Homo sapiens: one gene and its partners. The protein of the gene in region 3 interacts with the protein of the main gene of each other region in a pairwise test. Each region holds a gene or a part of one and is shown on either strand. Other genes may lie near its edges.

Region 1 (3,368 bases), on a different chromosome or scaffold from region 3:
TTATTAATATTGTTTAGGGATAATTTGGTAACAGGAAATTTAGCTTGACATGGCAACTTAGGTTTTCCAGGACACTTTCATCCCTATAGCTGCCTTTTCCCACCCACCCCAAACCGAATTGCCTGTGTGAAATATCAGGCTGTTTGCTAAGGGAGATGAATCTTTCTGTGTCTGAGAAGTACACATAGTTTTCTAACTCAGCATCTCTCTTTTTTCAGCACCTGTTTTTCTCTCTAGAGGAGCTTCATTTCTACTTCTGCACAGGGAGGATGAACAAACCTTTAATTAAATTACTTGAAATTTCAGTGATGATATTTTTAAAAATGATTATACATCTATTCTTTAAATATTTTCCCTTAACTGCTAGAATGAACTCTCTACATTTCAATGGTGGATAATATAATATAATAAAGCATTTATTAGAATATGTTTAATGAGGCTCTGATTTCTATGTTACGAAAGCACGCAAAGTGTCCAATGCTTATGAATAACACGAAGGAGACATTGTTAAGCTTTTAATAAGGACTTTTCTTTTTGTAAATCCACAGTGCCTACAACCTATAACATAGATTCATATTTTATGGCCAAAAAAGTAGCATGACATTGGAAATAATACAGAGACTGGGCATTTTTTCTCATTAAAAATCATAGGCTTAAATTTACACAATGGATATTCTCAACCAGTACCCTACACGGAAGAGAAAGCTGTTGCAGAAGTACAATATTCAGGTAGGGTAAGAGTGAAAAAGTCTCTTATGCATGTTCCTATATTGCGTGCTCTGTCCCCATTTAATATCTGCTAGACAAGTCACAAAGGCCTCCCAGGGGATAGCAACAGATGATCTCTTTGAAGGTTTTCCTCAGTTCTTGACTCCGGAGTGCATAAATCAGAGGATCGATGATTGAATTACACATGATCAGTATGAGATACAAGTTAAAGTGAGACATGAAGCACACACAATATGGATTCTGAGGACAAGAGATGTAGAATATTAAGTGGAGGAAGAATGGGGCCCAGCAGACAACAAAGACGCCAATCAGGATGGTCAAGGTAATCGCTCCCTTCATATTGGCACCTTGGCGGATGGCACCAGTGCCGGGGAGGACAGCAATCCTCTTAATGTGAAGCCTGGCCATCAGGAACATGTGGACATAGAGAGAAGCCATGAGAGCCAGCATGGTGAAGAACATGGTGATGAGGCAGATGATGACAGCACTACTATCTGAGTAAATGATGAACAAAATGCCTGAAACCGTGCAAGCTGCCCAGATACAACTTATGATGATCCCAACCCGCTTAACTGTCATAATGTTATGGTACTGGAGAGCATAGAAGATAGTAAAGTACCTGTCCACTGCAATTGAAAGCAGGCTGCAAATGGATGCAAGCAAGGAGCTACAGATCACCGAGTCAATGACATTATCAATATTCACTGTGAAACTCTGTGCATCCGTATCTGTACTGTTTAATAGGGTGATGACAATGGTTTCTGATCCATTTGAAACGCTCACCAGCATATCAGCCACAGCCAAGCTGCAGATGAAAAAGTACATGGGTGAATGCAGATTCTTGTTCTTGGCTATTGCCACAATCACTAAGATATTCTCCAACAAGCTGATGACACCCAGAGTCACAAACACCTCAGGAGAGACAAAAAGTTGCTCGTAGCACCCTCCATCAGAGTAGCCTTTTCCAAGGGACTCACTGGCATTGCTGTGCAGTCTGTAACTGCTGCGGTTCCAGAGGTGCAGAGAAGTGTGCATCCCACGGTGGGTGGAGTTCACCATGCTGGCAGGAGAATTCCAGTGTCCCCCTGAATTGATTTAACCTCCTGGGTCAGGGAGTCGTCTCAGTTATTTCCTCCAAGTCTTTATCTGTCTGAAAGTTGTGAGGCTAAAATTGCCATGCCTGCTGTGAGTAAATGTCACAAGTCCAGAGCTTGACATGGAGTTTTTAGTCTCTTTTAGGTACGACTCTAATCATCATCACTTTAAAATCTTGGGCTTCAAAATATTCATTCTCAGTTGAAAGAGTCTGCTCTTTGCTTTCTTGTTCTCACTTCTGCTTTAACTTTAATCTTATGCATTCAAGTCTGTTCAAAATAATTTTCCTTGAAGCTGCCATGCCATTGGGAGACGAATCTGTGCGCACATGCTCACATCGGCTGCCTCTCGGAAGCTTCTGTTTCCAGCCTGAGCGTTGCTTTGAGTGTTAGGGGCTGTAGGCGCCAGCTGCTGATTTTTATGATGTGTGGAGAGAAAAAAAACATGTTCACGGTGGCTCCTCCTCTGCTTCCTTCTGACCAATCCCAATGCAATGGGAGTCTGTGAGACAGGATTATGTTTCAGAGACACAAATTGCAGGGTGACACAGATTCAGATGCAGAAGCTCCTGAAGTCTGAAGTCGAGAAGCAAGCCGGATAAGAGACTGAATTTCCCTTTTTAAGTTTTCAAGGGAAACAACTTGATCCCTAGAGGCCATTCTGTGATATCAAAACAAGCTATCTTCAGGCAGCCAGGTTCATTCTTATGTAAAAGACATCATGTGTGTGTGTAAAATGAAATGGAAAGTATACTGTCTTATGTTCCTGAAACAGATACTCTGCTTTTTGGCTAGGATACTGAATTTATTTACCTTCTTAATTTTTTGTTTTTATTAAGAACCCAGCCAGTAGTGGTTCAGTTAAAATACCTGAAAAACAGAGAGGATATTTAATGATACAGATAGACATGGTATGGCTGGAAGAACTATGTAGGTAGCTATAAATTATGAATGGGTTCAAAAGGGGTTGATTTTAATGCACTAATATCCCATATTTCTCTATTGAGGAGTTTGTGTTATAGCTGAAAAAAGGTGCTTTTTATTTACAATATTTTAAACTCATACGGCATTAATGTAACTATGCTTACACTGAACTCAGGAAAATAATAAGCTGCATTCTGTTTTTTTTTTTTAAGCAACTTTTTTTTAAACCTCCAGAGTTTAACGTATCGTAAGTTGAACCGACAAATACCTAGTAACTTTACTTATCAAGCCAAGACTGGTGATACTAGTTAGTTATTGAAGTTTCTGAATATTTTGCTTAAGGTGGTTTGAAAGATGGCAGCAAAGTTACTTTCCAAATTAACTGAACAACAGATTATACAAAATTTTGTATATTCTTTTCTTCTATGATTATTTTTGGTTTTAGTGCTCTATAGTTTGTAGCTGCTTATTTCAGGGTTAATTCTGAATCTCAGTTACTTAGGTTGGGAATGTATCCTCTTTCCTTTTGTGACAGAGACAATACTAAGTATTGTTCCTGAGCATTGAGATAAATTAACGTCTTCCATCCACCTTTGGAATTGGGTAGGACCTTATGACTAA
Region 2 (3,500 bases), on a different chromosome or scaffold from region 3:
GGCAATAGTTATCAGAAGAAAATTTTTCATAGCCAATACATCTGAGTAGTCTCTCATTTTCTCTCAGTCACCTTCTAGGTTTTATTTCCTCCTTAGTCATTTGTTTACATGGCTGCTGTCTGCCTTCTCACCCTCACTAAAATGCCAGCCCCACAAAGGCAGGGCTTTTCACCCCTGTCCCCAGTACCAACATATAGTAGATGCTCAATACATATTTAATGAATAAATAAAACCAACATGACAACCAAGACAGGTGATTTTTCATCAGTCCATAAGTCTTCTAATAGGGAAATGAAGATACGTACATAAAATTGTTAAGTACATTAAACCAATTTTGTCTCCAGTCTTGATGAATACTGATATTTATATATTGTCCACTCCCCATGCCAGGAAACTATTTTTCTCAAGGGAAGCCACTAGATATTATTACTACATATACTATAGGTAACATAAAACATGTTATGTTTTATATGTAATTTCTAGTATGAACCACAGTATATAAGAAGAGTTCAATAAATACGTAATAGAATAAGGTAATCTGTTGTTTCTTTTGCTTAATGTTAATTTTACTCATGTAAGTGAATGGAAAATAAAATATAACATCTTGTTACTAGTGTTTTATTTTTCTGCAAATATAAAAAAACTGAGTTTATGCCAATACAAATTGTTCTATGCCTAATTTCCTAAATATTCCACACTTCACAAAACATTTACTTTTCCTCACTTTCTTAACACATAACTTGGACTCTAAGAGTTTCTACTCTTGAGCAAAAACAAACAAACAAAAATCTAAAATAATGTCTTTAAAATAAACATGAGACTTCTTTGCTTTAACAAGTACTGCATTCTAGTAATTCAATGCATATTCACTCATGCTGCAAAATAAAAAACATTTTTGAGATACAAAAACAAATTTTAAATTAAGTACTTTTTAAAAAAGCATAGTTTTACTGACTCATAACAATCTAGTATAATTTCACTATCATATTAAAGTACATTTTGCCAGGTGTGGTGGCTCACACCTGTAATCTCAGCACTTTGGGAGGCTGAGGCAAGAGGATCCCTTGCGGCTGGGAGTTCAAGACCAGACTGGGCAACATAGCAAGACCCTGTCTCTACAAAAAGTAAAAAAATATCTAGGCATGGTGGGGTACACCCGTAGTCCCAGCTACTTGGGAGGCTGAGGCAGAAGGATCAATTGAGCCCAGGAGTTTGAGGCTGCAGTGAGCTATGATCATACCACTGCACTTCAGTCTGGGGGACAGAGCAAGAAACTGTCTCTAAATGAATGTTAAAGAAACTGTCTCTTAAAAAAAAGTACATTCTATATTTTCACAGACTGGGGCCTATAAAAATCAAACCACTTTTACTGATTAAGAGTATTTTTAATGTACTTACCCTGACTTCATGAACATTATTAGAATAATCCACACTCTGGCAAATATAGCTATATCCCGCATTATATGATCCCATGAATAACTGGAAAAAGAGTAATAATATTTGTAGTAAAGTTTTAGTAAACACAGCATTAAAAACACAATTATATACAAAATGTAGCCTTTCAAATTATTTTAAACACAATATTTTCTTTAAAAATTTCAAATGCATTAAAAATTTCATGCATTCCGATTGCTAGAAGTTACTGTGCATTAATTTGTTCTATAATTAAAATCTAAATTAAAAATCACATGTAAATTTTATACTGAACATTGACTCTATCTATTAAATACTTCACAGTATTAAGAGAAATTTTTATTGCTAGGACTCAGATTTCAAAGTTGTCCTACCTTAACTGGTTTCTATGTTTGATCCAGAGTGGTTTGCATCTAACAAATTAGGTACAGGTATCCAAATAAATTAAAGTGTTCATGAAGTTGAGACTCGAGGCTAAGTTTTCAAGTAAAGAAATATTTCTTTTTCTAAGAAGAGTTATTGTTTATTTTCCTAGCATTACTAGTCAGTTCTCTGGCTTCATACAGAATTTTAATGAGTCTCTTAGGAAACAAATTCTTTATACATATGCAATTTAAAAAATGGCTGTGTCAATCTAGCCTTTAGGATTTCCTTTGAAAATGTTGTGGAGAATTTGCTAGTGCCCAGAAAAGTATATAATGATTAGTAACAACAGCTATATGGCAGTTAATTCATTTTAATTCCAGCCCAAAATACAACATTATGTAATAGGATTTACTTGAAATTGGCATATTTTGATCAGTTACCAAACCAGAAACTACTGAATAAGAATTATAAATAAATAGCTGCTACTGTTTACTGAGTGCTTAATACGTGCCAAACACTATGCAAAAATTATCTTACTTTACTCCGATAATAACCTGAGATGGTAGGTATTTAAGTGGGGAAAACGAGGCTAAGAAAAGTTAAATAACTTTCAATGCCAGAACAGCTAATAAGGGTTACTTTAGAATCCAGTTGGTCTTATTCAAAATTCCACTTTAAACAACTTTCCTATACCTCATGTTTAATATTTTTGTTATTCAAAAGTGAAAAATGTCAAAAATGTACTTTTAGAGTAGCTAACAGTTATGTCTGGGTAAAATATTACAATGATGGTTTTACACATTCTCATTTTTAAATTTCCAATAACCTTGGAAAATTATTAAAGTGATCTTAAAAACATACCTCTCTGAAGATAAAGAGGTTAAGCAAAACCATCCCAAAATTATAGATAATGAGCACTAGACGCATCTGAAAAGGTTCTCGGTCCTTCATCCATTTTGGACCCAGCCACACAAACAGGAGATAAAGAGTGCTTATACTTAGTGTAGGCCAAGGAGACTGCATCAGAGGCCAATTTTCCACACGCTTATCTATAGAGAGAACAAAATACCATAAAATTCATTAATCAGTAAATGTTTTATAAAATACACTTTTTAGGAATCAAGATGTTTCAACTTAATTTCCTAATTTGACTAAATACGGATCACTGTCCTTTGAGTCCCAACAAAAAATACATGGTATAAAAACCAAAGAAACAATACTGACTCCTGCAAGTGGCTTTTGAAAATTATGCTTCATTACTTATGTCACACATTATGTTTTACAGAGACCCTACAGAACAAAAACAAGAAATAAAGCGCACTAAAAACAGAGGTGGTTATCTTGGGATGAAAAGTTAATGAAAAACTTCATACACAGAAAATAAATATGTTAAGGAAACATTTGTCTTCCATATTATACACGTGAAATTTATCAGGGCAGCTTGGAGGCTGCTCTGTGTGTCCACTCCTAAAGCAGGCAAGAATGTAACTGGAGAGGTACGTACGGGGCGATGGTAGCCATTTGCTGAAATATCTCGAGACACTGAAGACAAGAGTACAGGGGCACTGAGAGATTAAGTTAGGGTTAATTACAATTCTATAATGTAAACAGTCACCATATTCAAGACATTTTTCTAACTTTTTCATTGAGAACATGCACCTATTTTATTCCCATGAATAACTAACTTGAATGTTTTTCTCTAGAGCTGTAAATCGCATAAC
Region 3 (3,500 bases):
CCATCTACTACTACATTTGATCATTTCCAACTCTAAGGGCTGGCAGCAAATAAATGACTTCATGAGATTTGAATCCTATTCAATAAGAATACTTCATTAAGCACTAAGAAGCCTAGAACCAGAAACTTTTTAAGTGAGAATACTTCATTTAATTTTATTCTGCAAGTGTTAGTTTCAGTTTTCTGCAGTTTTCATTGTTTTCTGCCCAGAACTGTCTCTTCATCCTTCAAACCTCTCTATATACTTCTCTATTAATGCAGATGATAATAATAATAATCAGCATATATAATGAGGTAGGAGAGAGGTTGAGGGGGAGAAGTAATGTGAGCAGAGGTACGGAGAAAGAAAGAAATGTTTGTGGCAATGCCAATTTAATAGTCATTCACGTATAAAAATATGGTTGAAACTACATAATCACTAACAATGAACATTTTTGTATAGTTTACAAAGATGTGTTGCCTCATATAATATCTTGTTTGAGATTTACCAATAAGTCCATAAGATATTACTATTGGAGGTATTTCATAAGAGATTAAGAAAGTGAGTCTCCTAGGAGTTAGGCAGCATGCCCAAGTTTGCACTGGTAACAGGTGGCAGTGTTAGGTTTCATATCTTTTAATTCTAATCAACATAGGAGAGGAGCAGATGTCCAAGGGCTACAAGGCAGCCCTTCTAGCAGCAGGAAAGAAACAACAGTAGAGATCGTAAAAGTCAGAGAAGCAGGACAATATACAGCACAGAAGCCCAAGGAAGACAGAATTTCAAGAAGGACTTGACCTTTTTTTCTATAAGAATAATAAATTCCAAGGCAATGATATCTAAGAGCTTTTTTTTTTTTTCTTTTTGACACAGGGTATCACTCTGTTGCCCAAGCTGACTGAAGTGGCACGATCAGCCTCCTGTGTAGTTGGGACTACAGGTGTGCACTACCACGCCAGGCTAATTTTTTTTTTTTTTTTTTTTTTTTTTTTTTTTTGTAGAGGTGAAGTCTCATTATGCTGTCCAGGCTGGTCTCAAACTCCTGGACTCGAGTGATCCTTCTGCCTTGGCTTCCCAAAGTGCTGGGATTACAGGTGTGAGCCACTGCGACCAGCCCAGAAAGAACTTTTTTTAGCAAAGCATAAGTCCATGTTATTATATTTAAGCAGAGATTGTTCAAATTATGTTATAAATGATTTAATACTACCAAAGTGCTAACAGCAGTGCCTGGTACATAGAAAGTGTGACATAAGCATTTGTTAAATAGATAAAATATAACCACTCCTAATACTTATTGATTATATGGTAAAATAAAATTCATATAAAAATATCAGTATGTCTAGTTAACTTTAATTCTCAATTACCCCACAAAAGGAAAAGAAATCTCACAATATAACTTAAACAGTATTTCTTAATTATGAAGAGAATTGGCATGATTTTGAAGAACTCTGCCTAATAATAATAGTTACAAGCACTGAATAAATGTTGGCTATGTGTCCAGGCAATGAGGTAAGGACTTTAAATTATCGCATTTAATTCTCTCTATGCCCTAAAAATGAAATAAGGGGGAGATCCAGGCCTTGTGGAGCCCAAAGTTTATATAATTTGGGGTTCCCTCTTTAAGAAAAAGAGTACAACAGTTTTGACCTTTGCAAAATTGACAAAACCATAGGACCACGAGAGCACATTGCTAGAGTTTATTCAATTTTATCTCTCACTTCTTTTCCTATCGTTACTATTTTCTAGTCAAATGAGCCCTATTATTCTTACTCTCAAATAAGCCTCTAAAATATCTGGACTTTTGCACTTGTTATTCTGTCAGCCTGGAACATGATTCTGTCAGATCTCATTGCTAGCTTCTTCAGATACCAGTGCAAAATGACCTCCGTAGAGAAAAGCACCTGACACCATTTACAGAAGAATGCACTACATCTTCCAACATACACACTTTACAATTATCTTTTCATTTTTCTCATAAACTTCATCATTACCTGAACAGTTTTATATATTTTATTTATTATCTATCTGCCCTAAAGAATATAAGTTCCATGAGAACTGACACCACGTTCTTTTTGTTTACAGATCTATCCCAAGTTTTTAGAACAGTAGTACATACCAGTAAGTGTTCAATAAAAATTTGCTAAAAGAGGGGTCAGGCATGGTGGCTCATACCTGTAATCCCAGCACTTTGGGAGGCCCAGGCAGGTGATCACTTGAGACCAGGAGCTCGAGACCGGCCTGGTCAACATGGCGAAACCCTGTCTCTAATAAAAATACCAGAAAAAATTAGCTGGGCATGGTGGCACACACCTGTAGTCTCTACTCAGAGGCTGAGGCACAAGAATCGCTTGAATCCAGGAGGAGGAGGTTGCAGTGAGCCGATCATGCCACTGCACTCCAGCCTGGGCAACAGAGCAAGACTGTCTCGGGAAAAAAAAAATTGCTAAAAGAATGAATGCATATCCTGTTCTCAACTCAGTTTTGGAAAATTAATCCAGAACACTAAGTTTGGACTGCTCTGTTTTGAGATTACTAACAGCAATTTCCAAAAGTTATTCTCTCCAAATGCTCTATTTTACATATAGGAGGAGTGCTCCAGTGTTTCTGCTGGTAGAAGACTAATCAAACTAAAGGAGCAGAATAGTCAAGGTTCATCTATCCTATTAATCTACTTTGTATCAATCACAGAGTTTAATTTGTATGTTACACTAAAAGTGTACGTTAGTTTCTGAAATTTTGACAATAGGAATGCTGAGCAAGATGTAACTTTATCATTGTCTAAAATATATAACTGTGATTTGTAGTCAGTCTCATATATTCAGAATTTAGAAAACATAAATTTAAATTATATAAGCAAGCACTTAGTAGTTACTGTAAACATTCAAAATAAAAACATACCTCCTAGAGCCCCACTGTGATCTAGACTTTTCTTTTTAAGGCCATTAGAGACGATCAGAACAGGAACAACAACAGAAAACAGCCAACGCCACGGAGAAATAGGTCGTAAGTTACCTGAAAAATTATAAAGGTGGAGCACAAATTGTGTGAAGTTTGCACAGGTTAGTTTTGGCAGTAAACTTCCGTTACTGCTTTTAGACTAAAATACTGTCATAAGTACAAACACCAAGATGAAGTCACCAAAGAAATATATAGTCATGCATCACTTAAAGATAGGGATATGTTCTGAGAAATGCATCCTTAGGTGATTTCATGGTTATGCAAACGTCAGACTGTACTTACACACACCTAGATGGTAGAGCCTACTACACACTTAAGCTATATGCTATAGCCTATTGGTCCTAGGCTACAAACCTGTAAAGCATGTTACTGTACTGAATACTACAGGCAATTATAACGTATTTGTGTATCTAAACATAGAAAAAGTAGAGTAAAAATATGGTATTATAATCTTATGGGAACATGTTGTATGTGTGGTCTGTCATTGACGAAAACATTGTTAGGCAGAGCATGACTGTATTTATGTTGAGACATGCATGCATATTTTCGGAGAAACAGTCTTA
Region 4 (4,194 bases), on a different chromosome or scaffold from region 3:
ACATCAGCGAGCTGGCTGCGGAAGGAGGACACACCTGTCTCAGGGAAGCCTCCAGTGTCCCTCCCAGGCCTGACCCCAGTGGACATTTACTGAGAAATTACTGTATACCAGGCCCTGGGCTGAAGGCAGAGCAAAGACAGTGACACCCCACCCTGGCCGTCGAGCAGGTCAAGCGACACTCAAACACACAGTGAGACAGTGTGGCCAGGCCGGGTGAGCCCTCTGCTGGGAGCGGCCTGGAAGGACCCCTGGGGCGTCTGCTCAGGGGAGAGGGGTGGAGAGGGAGTGGAGCAGGGCACAGCTGGACAAAGGTCTGGGGTCCCCAAGGGCACCTCACCTCGCTCCACACCCAGAAGGGCAGCCAGCAGCACTGGCAAGAAGATCTTCATTCTGGAGAGGATGGCCGTCCTGCCTGGAGGTCACAAACCAAAGCAGCCTGTCCTGCTCTGGAGAGACACACTGGTTAGGGGGCCGGGTGGTGCCTCACTCCTCCCCAAGACCATGCACCCCCACTTTGCAGATGAGGACACAGACAGCAGAGGGGAAGGGACCTGCCAGCACACAAGGACTTCCCTGCTTCTCTCCTGACCCACTCCTCACTCAGTGCAGACATGCTCTAGGCTATCTCCCTCCTGAAACCTGGCAGGAGGGGGCTGCACAGGCAAGAGGAGGAAACTCAGCAGCCTTCTCAGAACCACAGAAAAGAAGGCAGAGTGAGTGGCCTCTGCCAGTGGTCCTGGGGTGGGGGAATGGGGAATGGGGAATGGTGATCAGTCATAATATTAGCTAGTCTGGGGCTGGGTACAGGGGCTCACGCCTGTAATCTCCATGCTATGTGAGGCCAAGGCAGGAGGATCATATGAGGCCAGGGGTTTGAGACCACCCTGGGCAACACAGTGAGACCTCCTGTTTCTACAAAAAATACAAAAATTAGCCGGGCGTGGTACGTGCCTGTGGTCAGCTACTTGGGAGGCTGAGGTGGGAGGATCTCTTGAGCCAGGGAGTTCAAGACTGAAGTGAACTATGATCATGCCACTGCACTGCAGCCTGGGCAACAGAGTGAGACCCTGTCTCAAAAAAAAGAGAAATCTATATACACATCTATATGTGTATCTGTCAGTGTATATTAGCTAATCTGTATCTAGAATTTTCCTTGGGATGGCTCAGTGTTTTGAGCCCAGGCAGCTCCCCTCACATGGAGACCTGGGGCCAGGTGGGGCATGGCTGAGGGGGAAAGCACTCCCCATTCCTGATGTTACTCAGTTCCGAGGAAAGCACCCCACTCAGTATCTGCTACTCCCCATTCTGTGGCTGGGAAATGGGCTCCGAGAGACAAGGCTGCGTGCCACTGGTCCCACCAGCAGGAAAGGGCCAGATGGGTCGCTGTACTGCTCCTCGGCCTCTGCACAGGACCCTCTGCACTGCTGGAGAAAGAATCTGGAACACACCCAGCTGGGGTCGTGATTCTCTGTTTTGTGAGTGCATGGTGTTGGAGGGGGAGGCTGCTGCCTTCTGTCAGGGACAGCCGTGGGCAGAGGAGTGGGAGGGACATCCCGGGCCTGGGGAGCTAGTGCTGGGCACTGGGGGTAAGGAGGATGCCTCAGAGAACAGATCTGGAGAGGGGCCCGCAGAGGCCCTAAGGGGAGAGCAGCAGGCCAGGACAGTGAGACCTGGGCTGACATCCTGGGGTTGGGAGTGGGAGCCCCAGGTGGCCAAAAACAGTGCCAAGTCCGGCTGGGGCCTATCCCCGCCTCCAGGGAGTAGCCCGAGGAGGAAGGATCTCCAATTCCTTTTCCCCCCACCCCCCTAAAGTGAGGTTCTGGTGTGGGGGGGTCCCTGAGCTGTCTCTGAGGAAGTCCTAGCATACAGGGCCACAAACAGGTCCAGCTGGTGCCGCCACCTGCTCACTGGGTGGCACCCAACCCGCTGGGCCACCAGGCTGAGCTAAGGCACCGGTGGGAGCCGAAGGCAATTAGGAAGGCCGGGTGGGCCATGGAGCCCGGAGGGAGCCAGCCGGCAGGCCGTGGGGGGCGCCCCTGGGGCCCAGGCTGCAGGCTCATGGCTCATCCCCAGGCTCAGGGAAGCTGGCCCCTGGGAGCCAGGTATCTAGGGGCTGCCCAGCCAGCAAGGGGCGGGAGCCTCTCCTGTGTCCCGGAACGGGGAGGGGCCCGGCGGTCCACTCAGGGAGGCTGGGCTCCTTGGACCTCACCGCAAGCACCACCAGTGCCAAAACAAGAAGCGGGGGCGGGTTCCAGTGCTCCGGGGTGATATGCCGGGGGCGGTCAATCCTCCCTTTCCGGCCAGGAGCTCTGCAAGGTCCCGTGCCCCCTCCCCTAGTCCTCAAGGCTGTCCCTCCCGGCCCACGTAGAGGAGCCAGGAGCGTCTGGAGTTGGGTGATGGGCTCCAGTGGCTGCGCAGCCCTGGGGCGGCCGGGAGGCTCCTGGCGGCAGTCTCCGCCCGCTCCCGCCCCAGATCTTTGGAAACATTCGGGGAGGCCTGCGGGGGATGGGAGGAGAAGCTCAGCTCTCTGGGGACCAACCCACCGGCAGCCCCAGCCCCTCTCCTGCGCCTCCCCGTGCGCCCCTCTTGCTCTCTCCCACCCTCTCCCGCCCCGGCCCCCGCAGGGCGCCTTCCGCCGCGCGTGGCTGAGCCGGGGCCGCGTGCACCGCAGCCGAGGCCGCCGGGTCTGAGCGCGTGCGCGCAGGTGGCGGGGGCGTCCCGGCCGGGGGCCCGCGGACTCACCGCCGGGCGGACGCAGGTACCAGCAGCCTGGCCGAGCTCCCCGAACCTCGCGCGCTCTGGACCGCGGCTGGCCCGGAGCCTCCCAGGCAGCCGCGCGGCCCCGGGGCGGGGGCAGGGGCGGGACGCGGGAGGGGCCTCCGGCGGGCGGAGTCGGCGAGCCCGCGGTGGGGGTCCCCGCGCCGCCCAGGCCTACCCCGGCTCCTTGGGATAGATGGGGAAGCTGAGGCCCAGAAGGGGGCTGAGACCACCTCCCAGTTTCCCCAGTGAGGTGGCGCCTGAGCCACGGCCAGGCCCGGCCTCCTTCCACCCGGCCCTGCTGTGCGCGCGGCGGGTGCTGACCTGGCGAGGCCGGACAGGGGACCAGGTCGGGGTGACCGTCACTGACACCTGGACAGTCCTCGTTGTGTTCGGGGTGGGAAGCCCACGGGTGAGCAGACGTGTTTGGGTGTGAGCACGGAGGAGGGGTGCCTCGGAGAGTGTCGGGGAGCAGTGTTGGGGGTCTCGCCTGCGGAGTGGAGCTCGGGAGGGGAGGACGCAGGCACCCCCGCAGCCTGGGATTCCTGAGGTCATCTTGTCCCTGCTTCCCGCTCCAGGCTGGGCTGTTCCTTGGCCATCCCTCAGGCGGGGGTGGGGAGACCGGCAAGGGTTGGGAGGTGGGAGGTTGTGGGTGCTGGCTTCTGCGAGGGCACTGAGGCTCTGCCATCGGTGGGTGCCTCTCCTCCCGCCAGGCCCTCTCCGAGGGGCTGTGGGCGCTGGGGCTCTGCCACCGGCCTGTTCTCCAGTTGACAGTGCGTTTCCTTTCTGGGTGACAGGGCGAGCACCAGGGAGGGGTCTTCTGAACCCCACACGGGAGTAGGGGGAGGGTGTGCGGAAATGTGAGGGTGGGCAGGTGGCCATGTGGTCAGGAGGGGGCTGGGGCTGACAGACACCTGTAACACCCCTGTCTCAAATCTAGGGGTGCAGTCAATGTGGCTGTGTGTGTGTTTTGCATGAGTGAGTGTGTGTGGTGCGTGTGTGTGTGTGTATGGAGGCTGAGGCTGGGGCTGTGTGTGTCACGAGATGTCCTGGCCGTGGTATGATGGCATCGTGGGTGGGGCTTCCACAGCTTTGGGGGCGATGGCCCAGCTGTCTCTGGGGACAGGAGCCTCCAGTAGGCTGTGGCCCGGGGGAGTCCCTGCCTCTGGGTCTTACGTGGGGCACAGGCAGGGCATCTTCCCCTCTGGAATGTTGGCGGTGAGGGCAGGGGGTTCTGTCTCTGCAGCCGGCACCTGGGGCCATCCCTGCCATGGCAGGGGCTCAGTAAGAACTGTGGGACGAAAGCACGGGTGGGTTTGCCCCCTTCAAGACAGGACCCTCTGATTCAGAAAACAAGCTGCATTAGGAGGAGGGCTGTTTGGAAAAAACTCTCAAACCATTTATCCTGTCTCTCACTCAACACAGAAGACATCAACA
Region 5 (3,500 bases), on a different chromosome or scaffold from region 3:
AGTGTAACAGAGTAAGATAGAAAACTGAGTCATTAACACAGCATTCCCTTGTGAAAAAAGACAAACCAGGATGATTAAAGCAATGTTGAAAGGGCTGAAAACCCTGAAATTGGACATATTTTTTTGCCCTTTTATCTGTCTGCAAAGTCCATGTAATTCATTACATGTGTTAGTTCATTTTAAAAATACTCCATGGTATTTTTTCTCTTTTAAAAAATGCCAATGGTTGAAACCAAGGAAACATATATTAAACCATTTCATACAGAGTATAATTGAAAGGAAAAAAAAAGAGAAAATATTTCAAATTTCCAAGACAGAGGATATGCTTAAAATATTCATAAGCTTTTAAAAACTAAACTAGATCCTCTTACTCTGATGAAAGCTAAAGTGAGGACTAGACTTCAATCCTATAGGACTATATCAGATATCAAAAATTTTAATGGAAAGAACACAGACTTGGTGTCAGAGTAACAGTTTTGGCGAAACCACTCAGATATTTACTTTGCTAGATGCTGAAAGATGAGCAAAAACACTTCCAAACATTAAATAGCTGAGGGTTTCGCAGCAAAGACTAAAACGTAAATAAATAATGCAAGAACTGCTCTAATGGCACACGAACAAGGTTAACTAGTAGGGCAGAGTTAAGGAAGACTTCACTGAAGAGGAGACACTTGAATTAGCACAAAAGAAGAATAAATACAGCACTGAATGGGGTTGTTTTGAGGCTTCAATGATGATATACATAAAAGCCCCTGGAACAGCTGGCAATAAACATTAATTAAATCATACTCCTTGTTCAGATTCAATTTCCCCAACTCACCGAGCGTATGAATAGTCTAAGCTGGCCTGATCAATCCGGTTCCTGAGAATTCCAATGTCAGCTGACACCATGTCATCTAAAGCCTGCAACTCCTTCTGGATCCGCTTTAGTTTCATGGTCTCTGCCTGAGTTCTTTTGGATCTAGAAAATCAGGTATGTGAGTGGGAAAATAAGAACATTTTAAAACCATGTGTCCATATACAATGTAAGTGAAAAAGCAAGATACTGCATATACATTTATAATTTATATTTTAAAAGTTAGAAAAAAATCAGAAAAATTGAAATAAAGTAAAAGCTGGTTAACATTTGAGTTTTTGAAATTTTATATTTGCATGTTTCATAAAGTAACAAATAAGTCTAAAAAAACTCAGCAAATAGTTCATTTTAGATTGATATTCATTCTGTAAAGAGAACAAACACTAAAAGAATATATCTGTGTTCCCTTTACATTGAAACATTCAACAGAGCTTTCCAAATTTCTAGTCTTTAATTCTTCCTCTTGCTAAGCCCATTTTCATTTGTCTGATACTTACCTGACATTAAGAACAGATAGATGTCTATACTAAACCACACCTCTTTATATATCTGAGAACATCCACTTAGTTTTAACTTTCTTGGGACCCATTTCCCCAAACTTTTATTGCTTTGATTCTTGTTCTCTAGGAAAACTACTAGTTACGAAAATTCTTTATGGAGCTGAACATCAAAACACTCATTTTCCTTATTTAAAAGCACATCCAACCTCATAATTTCTCAATCCCCTCTCCCAAGTACAATATATACTTAAGAAAGGGAACAAACAAATAAAAAAGCAACCCTTTAATCATGATTTCACTCATTTCAAATTTTCACACACATTGTGAAGGAAGAAGAAAAATCCCCACATAAATCCACCATGTTACATAGCACATTCTCTTGATTTCTACTCTTAGGCATTTACCCTTCCTTTCTGCCTACAAAACTTCACTTAACAGTATGATTCTTTTACGTCAAGTACTTCATTGTCCATTTATTAATAGTTCAAACGTTGTATTTCCTTACACTTCTGTTTATACTGGTGCTGTCTAAAATCAAAAGCACTTATGAGAAGAACTGCTGAGCCTGTACATCTTTTTGTAAAACCACAGAAAACAGCCTTCCCATCTCTTAGAAATTGAAGACTACTAAAATGCTTTAATTATTTTTAAATAATCACTTACCAAAAAAAAAAAAAAAGAGGGCACTACTCTTTTATCTGCTGGTTTTTTCCTTTGAAACATAGTAACTCAGTGAGTTGCATTATTTCCTATGCTTCAAGAAAGATCAAGGTGTACCAGTAGTAGAAAAAGAAAAATCACCATTTCTCAACTACACTCACTCCTCTGGCAGACAAAATTCTGAACTACTCTTATACCCATCACCTTCTTCCCTCTTCTCCTGCCCCTACACATACTCTAGCTTCAAGCAGTAACAGTTTGACAGACTTTTCTGGAAGTCTAAAAAGAAAATGTACTTCCTTGCATTTAGTTTTCACTATTCACAACCATGGATATATTGACTAAGTTTAGTTTCCTAAGGCCACAGGAGATTAGACAGAAACTACAAACTCAGCAAGAGTGGTGGGGGATGGGAAGAATGATTCCAATGGGAATGTTGTTGTGTGCGGCTGGTACAATGCAGTAAATGTGAAGGGGCTGCTGATAGACACTGGAAGGTGAAAGAAAAATTGAATCTCACACAGTGCTCATAATAATGACCCTGAGTCATCAATAAAAAGTTAAACTATATCATGTATCTTCTACTTGTGGAGGCGGGGCAAATTATTTAAGAAAAATGCCCATAGGAAATCCAATTAAGATTCATGGGAGTATGTCACTTATGTAGAAAACCTTATTCCTCTACACATCAAATGATTAAGGCCTCCCCACATAAAAATTAAAACTTGCATTTGTTGCTAATTTACATATACTGATAGCTATTTACTGCTTCCCTTATGAATGTGTAGATGGTTAAAACTGGGAGCACTAATGAAGGTCTTTAAAACTGCAACTATATTTACAAATTTAATATGCTCTATGCTTAAAAAGTTCTCTTTAATAAATTATAACTAGTATTTCAGTATCACTTATAAAGCATAATTTGTTTAGTTAGTCTTAAAAGTAATGGTTGAAGAAAAAATATCAGTTTATTAAAAGAGACATGGGAAAACAAATATAACACATGACACAACTGGTTACAGGTTACAAACAGCCTCTCCTGGTTCAGGTGCCTCACCTTTCTGCAATAGCTTTAGCCAAAAGAGCTTTTTTACGTTTATTTTTCTCTTCCATTAGCCGTTGTTCTTGTTGGAGGACTTCCCAACGAGATTTTTCTTGCCTAGGGGGCAAAAAAAGCATAAAAATGAGTTTATGAAAGAAAAAGAAACTGCTACCCTATCCAACACCTTACCAGTCTCAGTCCTCTAAGTATAAAATTTAATCAAGAAGATTTATGTATATGTTCTTTCAAAAGTCCTCTTAAAAGAAACCCATCTGCAGTTCATTATTTTGCTCTAATGGGAACAAAGACTACGATCTAAAGTAAAGAGGCTTACATAAATTGGACCTCTGAAATCCATTATATATATAATCTAGGAATCCACAAACTGGAAGCCAGAATACTGTGGCATGTGTTTAGGAGTACAAAGAAATTTGTGTAAGTT
Region 6 (3,500 bases), on a different chromosome or scaffold from region 3:
GCTTGGCATGGTGGCGCATGCCTGTAATCCCAGCTACTCAGGAAGCTGAGGCAGGAGAATCACTGGAACCTGGGAGGCAGAGGTTGCAGCGAGCCAAGATTTCACCACTGCACTCCAGCCTGGGCGACAGAACGGGACTCTGTCTCAAAAAAATAAATAAACAAATAAAATAAAAATAAAAAATAAAACTCCAGCAGATTTCTATATCAATAGATGTCTAATTCTTTCTCCATTTACTTTTCTGTTTAAAAAAAAAAAACTAAAAAGAAATTTTTACTTTAAAATTATATAACAAAATAATAAATGCTGGAGGGCTCTAAATTATAATGCAAAGTTCATTAAAAGATTCATATGCACTGACTGTACACTTTGTTCCCTGATGTGTAGAGTCTAACTGCCCCAGGTCTGGCTAAGTTGGCCAATGCTGTATGGTATAAGCTACTCAAAAGTACAACTAATTTTTTCTTCCATCTTTGTTTCCAAAGAATATGTTTGTTATAAATATTTCAAAGAAGAACACGAAAGTACTAGTATTCATCCACAGTCAGCTGGAGTCTACTTCATCTTCACACACTTCCTCAGAAACTTAAGTAAATTTCTCCTAACATCTTTCAATATATGAATTCTTAAACTTTTTTTTGCATGAGATCATCTACTTGTTTTTCCTTTTATTTCTAAGATCAAATAAAAATTTGGCCTTACATTAGATCCTAAATGAAATACTTTTTTGAAATATTTTAAATAATTTTATCTCATAAACTAGTTTCTTGTCATCAATTACATTTTCATATGCTTTACCTTGAGTTCCATTCAATCTTCTTTTTGAAGCTGAGACTATTGAAACCTGGAGAAACTTTTGCTGAAAACCAGTAACTTACAAAGTAGAAAAGAAGCTGAAAGGTGAAAAAGCTGATACAGGTAACACTGATGAGCAGTTTTGTGTTGATCTCCATATTTCTTCAACCTGTTAAGATAAATGACAGCTATAAATTGTTGTCTCATAATAAACCTAGAGTAATTTTTTTATTTTAAGAAATATGTCTTGTAATTTTAGTAATTTTTAAAATTTAGAACAAATGTTAAGAATATAAACTATAAGAATTTTTGACCTTTTGTATATTTCTTCACCTTTACCATCTATTTGTCATGTATCTTATGTCTGTTTTATCTTAAAGATCTCAATATTAGAGGTGTCATTTATAATTTTAACATCATGATATTCAAAATTATCTAAGTCTTAATATTAACAGAGAATTTCAAGTACTATAAGTAAAAACTATTCTTCTAATAATATTTCAATTAAATTTATGACAAATCGATTTCTTTATCCCTCAATTTCTCATCTATGATATGAAAGAGTTGGTTACATAATTTCTAAGAAACAATCAAGCCAAAAACCATAGAACTAACACTGCCTGTAATAACAAAACAAAAAATAATTCCATAATTAAAAAACTAATTTTGGAGCAGGACAAACAACATTTAAAACAAAATTAAAATCTTAAGAAGAACACAGTCTTAGCAAAGAGCCATTGCACTGTTGAGGCAAGACAATAGGGTCTGGAGGCAGGGAACCTAAGGCCGATTCATACTGACTTCCTAGAACTAAATCAAACAGAAAAGCCCAACTTTACACACCTAACTAACAAAATAACTGGAGGTTACTCGCTTTGAAAACCCCTCCCTCACTTTTCTGAGTGGCAAATGGAAAACTGAAAGTACCTCTGATTGGTTGCTTTCCGCAACCAATCAGACGTTTACATAGGAGTATAACTTTATAACTTCATTTCAGCCTCTGATTGGTTGCTTTCCCCAACCAATCTGACTGACTGCCAGCCAAGTCTTCCTTTGCACAGAAGTGTAACTTCCCCTCCCCTCCGCCACGCCCCCAACCCCGCCTCCAGATGGAGTCTTGCTGTGTCCCCCAGGCTAGAGTGCAGTGGTGCGATAGATCTCAGCTCACTGCAACCTCCGCCTCCCGGATTCAAGCAATTCTGCTGCCTCATCATCGCGAGCGGCTGGGATTACAGGCACGCACCACCACACTCGGTTAATTTTTGTATTTTTAGTAGAGACGGGGTTTCACCATGTTGGCCAGACTGGTCTTGAACTCCTGACCTCGTGATCTGCCCACCTCAGCCTCCTAAAGTGCTGGGATTACAGGCGTGAGGCACCACAACCGGCCTAGATTGTGGGCCACTACTTCATTTGCATGGGGTGTACAACAAGTGGCCAATGGGAAACCTGTAGCAGGTATTTAAGCCCTAGAAAATTCTGTAACCGGGCTCTTGAGCCCCTATGGTAGGACCAACTCCCACCCTGTGGAGTGTACTTTCATTTTTAATAAATCGCTACTTTCATTGCTTCATTCCTTCCTTGCTTTGTGCATTTTGTCTAATTCTTTGTTCAAAATGCCAAGAACCTGAACACCCTCCACCGCTAACACCGTCACTGCACAAATGAGAATTTAACTTTTAAAACATGCTCTTCAATCACACACATTCTTGGAGCAAAAGGCCTGCAGGGCTTTGTATCCCTTATTAAAAAAAAAAAAAAAAAAAAAGATTTTTATAAAAGAGCTTCAGGTCTTAACAATCGAGTTAGCAGAAAGAATAGTACTATGCATATATGCACACTCAAAGTGTGTTTTCTATTTCATTGAGCTGAACTTTATTTGGCTCCTAAAAATCTTAGGAACATTCAGAGCAAAAAAAAAAAAAAAAAGGCACTAAGGCATTTGCTCATATCCAGCAAATACAGCATTTCTATGGCTCCATCTTTGATAAAGCTGATTCTCAAATGAAAAAGAAATAAATCAATACACATTTCCAGCTGCCTAATGCAAAGAAATAAAGTCACCTACTGAAATCAATTCACCAGAGAAAAGCCAAGTCATTGACTGCACTAGCAATAACCCCACTTCATTCCCTTCCAACCAGGATATCGTAATAAGAATCAATCTCCCACAGGGCCCCTTCCATCAGAATTCATATGTCTATAATGAATTCTTTCCTCATTCTTTGTGTGTGTGTGTGTGTGTGTGTGTGTGTGTGTGTGTGTGTACTTGGTAAAAATATTGATATTACAATTCTTCTCTATGAGACTCCATTAACTTTACTGCTCTTTTACTTCTTTTTAATTCAACATATGTTTATTGGGTATTAAAATTTTAATTTGTGGTCTTTTAGCCTAGGTTTAATATTAACCAAACAATACATAAAAGTTTTGTACATAAATTAAGCATTACCATAATTTGCTAAGTGGGATGTAAGGAGAATAATGCTTTTCTAAGATTAAAGCAAATAGGTATCTGGAGGCCAGATGGACACAAAATTGGAAAAAAAATATAATCAGTAATCAGAAGAGAATGGAGAATCTAATCTTAAATGTGAGGAGGTTTCCCCTGAAGACTTTCGTATGCTCTCTGCTGATCCTAGAGCAGAAGGTGGGCACGGGCTGCTCATTTAGTTTGTTAAAATTCAATGTATACAAAGCATTTA

What was found.
Region 1: the proteins of TMEM19 (region 3) and MC4R interact in a two-hybrid assay, tested with the Homo sapiens proteins (one large-scale study listed by BioGRID and IntAct).
Region 2: the proteins of TMEM19 (region 3) and ELOVL4 interact in binary tests that used the Homo sapiens proteins (3 or more experiments, as listed by UniProt).
Region 4: the proteins of TMEM19 (region 3) and LY6E interact in binary tests that used the Homo sapiens proteins (3 or more experiments, as listed by UniProt).
Region 5: the proteins of TMEM19 (region 3) and GORAB interact in binary tests that used the Homo sapiens proteins (3 or more experiments, as listed by UniProt).
Region 6: the proteins of TMEM19 (region 3) and TLCD4 interact in binary tests that used the Homo sapiens proteins (3 or more experiments, as listed by UniProt).

Annotation. Positions count from the first base shown.
Region 1 is NC_000018.10:60,370,562-60,373,929, forward strand, and holds MC4R (melanocortin receptor 4), read right to left. Parts: upstream 2,215-3,368; 5' UTR 1,789-2,214; coding exon 790-1,788; 3' UTR 501-789; downstream 1-500.
Region 2 is NC_000006.12:79,923,554-79,927,053, forward strand, and holds part of ELOVL4 (very long chain fatty acid elongase 4), read right to left. Parts: intron 2,829-3,500; coding exon 2,641-2,828; intron 1,480-2,640; coding exon 1,399-1,479; intron 1-1,398. UniProt on the Homo sapiens protein: Catalyzes the first and rate-limiting reaction of the four reactions that constitute the long-chain fatty acids elongation cycle.
Region 3 is NC_000012.12:71,689,082-71,692,581, reverse strand, and holds part of TMEM19 (transmembrane protein 19), read right to left. Parts: intron 2,992-3,500; coding exon 2,878-2,991; intron 1-2,877.
Region 4 is NC_000008.11:143,017,135-143,021,328, reverse strand, and holds the start of LY6E (lymphocyte antigen 6E precursor), read right to left. Parts: upstream 2,801-4,194; 5' UTR 2,743-2,800; intron 447-2,742; 5' UTR 390-446; coding exon 338-389; intron 16-337; coding exon 1-15. UniProt on the Homo sapiens protein: GPI-anchored cell surface protein that regulates T-lymphocytes proliferation, differentiation, and activation.
Region 5 is NC_000001.11:170,542,166-170,545,665, reverse strand, and holds part of GORAB (RAB6-interacting golgin), read right to left. Parts: intron 3,176-3,500; coding exon 3,074-3,175; intron 962-3,073; coding exon 821-961; coding exon of another isoform or gene 817-820; exon of another isoform or gene 1-816.
Region 6 is NC_000001.11:95,141,355-95,144,854, reverse strand, and holds part of TLCD4 (TLC domain-containing protein 4), read right to left. Parts: intron 965-3,500; 5' UTR 954-964; coding exon 799-953; intron 1-798. Other genes in the region: TLCD4-RWDD3 (TMEM56-RWDD3 protein), read right to left, coding at 799-953.